2 separate regions of the Homo sapiens genome follow, and region 1 is linked to region 2. Evidence: fine-mapped expression QTL. A gene starts in region 2. The other region holds a variant in brackets. All regions are shown on one strand. Distances are between the middles of the regions.

What was found. PIP is the estimated chance that this variant, and not a neighbour inherited with it, causes the effect.
Region 1: its variant is fine-mapped to the expression of CSRP1 in whole blood (TOPMed, PIP above 0.99).

Annotation. Positions count from the first base shown.
Region 1 is chr1:201,481,242-201,484,141 of GRCh38, reverse strand. CSRP1 (cysteine and glycine rich protein 1) reads left to right here. Exons shown (of 6, transcript NM_004078.3): 6 at 1-612. Among named protein-coding and RNA genes, the nearest start is that of PHLDA3, 14 kb to the right of the region's middle. RefSeq lists an enhancer at 825-1,154. The variant A/G (reference allele first, on the strand shown) is at 1,249.
Region 2 is chr1:201,505,851-201,508,750 of GRCh38, reverse strand. CSRP1 (cysteine and glycine rich protein 1) reads left to right here and starts at 1,628. Exons shown (of 6, transcript NM_004078.3): 1 at 1,628-1,681. It overlaps CSRP1-AS1 (CSRP1 antisense RNA 1), which reads right to left and starts at 1,538. Exons shown (of 2, transcript NR_160747.1): 1 at 1,332-1,538. RefSeq lists a silencer at 1,297-1,926.

The sequences.
Region 1 (2,900 bases), 25 kb after region 2:
TTCTCCAGGCCTCTTGCCTTTGAGTCTTTGTGGAATGGATAGCCTCCCACTAGGACTGGGAGGAGAATAACCCAGGTCTTAAGGACCCCAAAGTCAGGATGTTGTTTGATCTTCTCAAACATCTAGTTCCCTGCTTGATGGGAGGATCCTAATGAAATACCTGAAACATATATTGGCATTTATCAATGGCTCAAATCTTCATTTATCTCTGGCCTTAACCCTGGCTCCTGAGGCTGCGGCCAGCAGAGCCCAGGCCAGGGCTCTGTTCTTGCCACACCTGCTTGATCCTCAGATGTGGAGGGAGGTAGGCACTGCCTCAGTCTTCATCCAAACACCTTTCCCTTTGCCCTGAGACCTCAGAATCTTCCCTTTAACCCAAGACCCTGCCTCTTCCACTCCACCCTTCTCCAGGGACCCTTAGATCACATCACTCCACCCCTGCCAGGCCCCAGGTTAGGAATAGTGGTGGGAGGAAGGGGAAAGGGCTGGGCCTCACCGCTCCCAGCAACTGAAAGGACAACACTATCTGGAGCCACCCACTGAAAGGGCTGCAGGCATGGGCTGTACCCAAGCTGATTTCTCATCTGGTCAATAAAGCTGTTTAGACCAGAACTCTGGTGTCCAATCCTGTGTCTGTGGAGCTGGGAGGGAACTCAATGGGAGCAATCAAATTAGCAGGGGCTTTGGGAGGCCGAGGCAGGCGGATCACCTGAGGTCAGGAGTTTGAGACCAGCCTGGCTAACATGGTGAAATTCTGACTCAACTAAAAATACAAAAAATGAGCCAGGCATGGTGGTGGGTGCCTGTAATCCCAGCTACTTGGGAGGCTGAGGCAGGAGAATCGCTTGAACCCGGGAGGCAGAGGTTGCAGTGAGCTGAGATCACACCATTGTACTCCAGCCTAGGCAACAAATGTGAAACTCTGTCTCAAAAAAAAAGCAGGCAGCCTGGTGGAAATGAATCAAAGTGGATTCGTTCCTGCTTTTTCTAAGGACCAATTACTTCTCAGTATCAATGCCAACTGAACCACACTGTCTGAAGTGACCCGACCAGCCAAACACCACTGGCTTGTCCTGTCTGGTCTCCACCCCCAAATCTGGGCCTGGGAATTGCATGGACTTTGGACTTGGAGGGGCTCAGCTAGGCCCCAAAACTGTGCTCAGAACTTCTCCCAGCTCGGAAAGCCCCAGCCTAAGAGGGAAACTCAACCAGAGGAACTTTCACGTCAAATCTAGAAAGCTCACTTCT[A/G]CCTAGGAGGGGTGTGGTGGAGGGGCCTGGCTCAGCCTGCTGTGCTGTTAGGGCCCCCACAGCAAGTCCGTGGAAGGCCACATTTTTTTTTGGAAATAGGTTCATGTGAGGGGTTGCGGCATCCTTCATCTTAGGCATACCTGCCTGATGCGTTGGGGCTGTGCTGCTTTGCTTCAGCCCTTCTCGAAAATGTGCCCACACTAAGTTTTCAAAACAAAAGCAGATGCTTTAATAACAACAAGGCCTCGTGTACCTATTTCCCAGATGACCAGCTCCAACAGTGGCCTTGACAGAGGCCCCTCCTGGACTCTGAGAAAGGCACCTATGCATGCATAACACCCATCAATGGTGCAGAGCAATAGAAAAGTACAAGATGACCGGGAGAAGAGCTGGAGGAGTTCAGGGAATGCCAGCCCAGGGTGGGCTCTGGCTGGGAGTTCTGCAATCGGGGTCAAGGGCTCCATCTTGGTAACCCCTCTGGCTCCAGCACAGGGGGTGGCCCACGAAAGGTGCTCCGGACAAGTTTCCGCAGCCAGGAGGACGGCTGGTTCCACACACCCAGGTGGACCCTTCTGTCTGGGAGGGGCCTACAGGAGTGGCCCGGATGGGAGCCTTTGGGGCCCAAAGCTGGAGAGAGGCTGCCCTCTGCTGGCTGATCGGGAGGGCCTGTCGGCGACCGTCCTGTGCCTTGCACCACTAGCTGTCTTGCTCCCGGGCCACTGTTTTTCAGTGCAGCCCCACGGTGGGCAAGGGGCCCTGACGCACCTCCTGGGAATAAGACCTGGGTAAAGGCAGTAGGCTGTAAGCCAGCTGCGGCCAGGCCAGGAAGCACTCACTGGACGGTGAAGGGCCAGCCAGAGGGGCGCATCAAGGAAGGAGGAACACCAGGCAGGGGAGGCACTTGGGGAAGGAGGGTCGGCTGACGGGGAGGGGGCCCAGCATCTGCAAGCGCGGCGCTTGCGCCGTCCCGGGAGACACCAGGTGGTGCTGTGGGGTCAGGGCAAAAGGCAGGCGCTGCGTTTCCGCGCACCCCACGCCCTCCTCCTCTCTCTGTGGACCCTGAGGACTCAGCTCCTGCGCAAGACAGCGCACGCGTCTAATCCCCGACGCTCACTTCTCCTTGGAGGGCTGTCGCGCTTCGGGGCCCTGTGGAATACCAAACCCTCACCAAAGAGTGAGCAAGGACTCTTTTTTTTGAGACAGAGTTTTCCTCTTGTTGCCCACGCTGGAGTGCAATGGTGCGATCTCGGCTCAACGCAACCTCCGCCTCCCGGGTTCAAGCGATTCTCCTGGCTCAGCCTCTGAGTGGCTGGGATTACAGGCATAAGCCACCCCGCCCGGCTAATTTTTGTATTTTTTTGGTAGAGACGGGGTTTCTCCATGTTGGTCAAGCTAGTTGGCCTAGAACTCCCGACCTCAGGTGATCTGCCCACCTCGGCCTCCCAAAGTGCTGGGATTACAGGCATGAGCCACCGCACCCGGCCAGGGTGAGCTAGGTCTTTATGTCCACTTAGGTATTTCTTTTCTCGTTTCTGTCATCTCCGAGCAAGGCGTCCAGGGCGACCTCGGGAGAATGTGTTTGGTGGGAGCTATGCCCAGCTGCAGGAGCGGTAGAGCCCTGGGCTTTTTAGGATGTGATGGAAAATAGCTGC
Region 2 (2,900 bases):
ACACTGATGGTGGTTCTGCAGTTTAATGGACCTGTTTAACTATTGCTTAGTCAGTGCAGCCGTGACCAGAAATTCTTCTGGTTTCTCCTCCTTCATCTTGGTTGGGTCAGATGAAGATGGCCCAATCTGCAAGAAACACTGGTTGTGTGCTTCTAGACATTTTAATCTTGGAGGGCCTTGTTTATAGGATGGACCTGGCCAAAGGAAAGATGTTACTTATGGTAGAAAGCAAGAAAAACCTAGATAAACACTTTTTTTTTTGAGAAACACTCTTGCTCTGTCGCCCAGGCTGGAGTGCAGTGGTGCAATCTTGGCTCACTGCAACCTCTGCCTCCTGAGTTCAAGTGATCCTTCCACCTCAGCCTCTCGAGTAGCTTGGATTACAGGCACACACCACCACGCCTGGCTAATTTTTTTAATTTTTTTGTAGAAACAGGGTTTCACCAGGTCTCGAACTCCTGGGTTTAAGCAATCTGCCTGCCTCGGCCTCCCAAAGTGTTGGGATTACAGGCGTGAGCCACAGTGCCTGGCCAAATACTTCATTTTCTAGATCATAAGATGCTTAACTTTATTCCTGGCAAAAAGTTGATTCAGCAAACCAGGGCTTTAAGTGAAGCCGGTTGGGGCCTGAACCCTTGACACCTGCCCAGGGTGGAAGACATAGCAGCTGCATCTATGGGCCACCTGGGGTGTAGGGTGACCAGCTGGAGGCTGTGAGCTTCTCTGCTCCCTGAAATGCCTGCACGGGGCACTCAGGAAGGGCTGGGGACTGGGTGAGGAGGTGTGGACAGAATGTCCCCTGGAAACTGCCCCAGGGGCAGCTTGAGTGGCCTGAGCCTGTGTCTGTCCTACTGAAGGTTGGAGCCCCAGAGAAAAGCCTCTATGGAGGCACCCACTTTTCAGAACTGCTGCTTTTGCGGGAGAACACCTTTTTCCAGGTGTTGTCCTTAGGGTAGCAGGGAAGACTGGGAAAAACTGAGGGGCAAGAGCTGTTGGAGGGGGGAGTTACATTTATTGAGTGTCTATTACATGCCGGGTGCTGCTGAAGGTCTGCGGGTCCTACCGGATCTCCTTTTAGCCCCTCACATCCCTGTAGATTACACGCCGTTCACAGATGACCCTGAACCCAGAAGGGCTGTCTAGGCCCAGGGCCCAGCTAGTGAGTGGATGGGCAGAATCAGACCTGCCCTGGAAGGGTCTGTCTTACCCTGGCGCCCAAAATGTGTCCCTCACCCTCTGCCACCAGGACAAGTAAATTCGAGACACCCTTTCGTTAGGGGCTCAAGTTTATCATGGGTCTGACCTCTAAGGTCATATCTCCGCCTTCTCACCTGACAGACAGGAAACTCCTGAAATGCCCCTCGCACGTGCAAGACGTTTTCCGCGGTGGCGGCGACAGGGCGCACAGTGGGACCGCAGCACGAGCTCGGAGCACCCCCAGAGTCGGCGACTCCTGCCCCCGCCCCTGCCGGCCGGCCTTCCCGGGGCCTAGGAGGGCAGCACCGCCGGGCTTCGCGCCATGACATCAGCCCTGGAGTGGTGCAGTGTGCAAAGCCCACTGGTTGGCGTGGCCCGGGACACGCCTTCCGCGGAGCGGAACAAAACGGCGCGCAGGCCGGGCGCACCCAGCCGCCACTTCCGAGAGCGCCTGCCGCCCCTGCGCCGCCGAGCCAGCTGCCAGGTGAGTGCGCCCTGAGTCGCGCGGCTCTGCCCGCCGCGGAGGGGCGCCTGGGCACGCACTCAGCGCCTCCCGGTCTTGCCAGCCCCGCCGCAGCCCCGGGGCTGTCGCAGGCGGGGAACTGTGAGAAGTGACCGCAGTTAGCCCGGGCAGTGCTGCTCTTTTCTGGAGGCACTAGGTCCGTCCCCATCCCGGGCCTTCCTGGGCTTCCTGGACACAGTTGACTTCCGCGTGTGCGTGACCCAGGGCGACCCGGCTCCCCGCAACCGCCTGCAAGTCGGGCAGAACAATCGGCGATTCTGCGCGCCACTGACGCTCATTGTATGGCAGAGAGATGAGGGCATCCGTGCCACCCCCTCCCTCACCCTCCTGCTGGGGAGAAAATGCCCGCGGGCGGGGTGGGGCAAACATCTGGGCCTGACCTTGGACATCTGTGTCCCTGAGCGCAGGTGTGAGTTTTCCCTCTTGTGAAATAACTGCATGGAAACCTCTCCACTCCAAATCTTGGTGCTAGGTGGTGATGGTTACTGAAACCTGAAAGAGCCTGCAGTCAGTGTTTTGTGGCCTCAGTCCTTGAAAGCTGGGAAGTGATAAAGGGGCTGGTATTGAGCACATTTAAAGCAAATCACAATGTGTTAGCTAACAATCAGCCCTCTGAGGCAGGTATTGTATCTACTGGTACAGACTAGAGAATATTTTGCATGCTTCTGGTTCTGGTGCTGTTGTGAACTAACCAGGACCCAGGAATCGGCTGGAGCAATAGTGGGCTCAGGCTCTGCCTAGAGCCCTGGGCTCCAGCCACCCACCAGCTGCTCCCTGAGAGTGAATGAATGGGCAGGCTCTCCCCACGCTGGGATACTATCACAGTGGCACCGAGGAAATCCACTGGGCCCTGGTAGAAAGTATATCAGTATATCATGAAGAGGTGGCTTGGAGTCTTGGTGGGATTGTTTGGAAGGCAGAGTTTTGACTCTTGGATTTGCCACTTAACGCGCAGGTTTCCTTGGACAAACTATTTAACTTCTCAATGTCTCAGTTTCTTTCAGGGATGCTACTTGGGGAGCATATTACACAGAACCTCCAACACAGGAGTGATCTCTCAGTTACTGTCTTTCTTGTCCTCCCCTCATCCCTTGCCTTCCTCCCAGAAGCTAAGGAGGCTGGAGGTGCTGGTTGTCTCCCTCTGTCCTCTCAGACTGCATGTTGGGGATTTTCCCCAGGT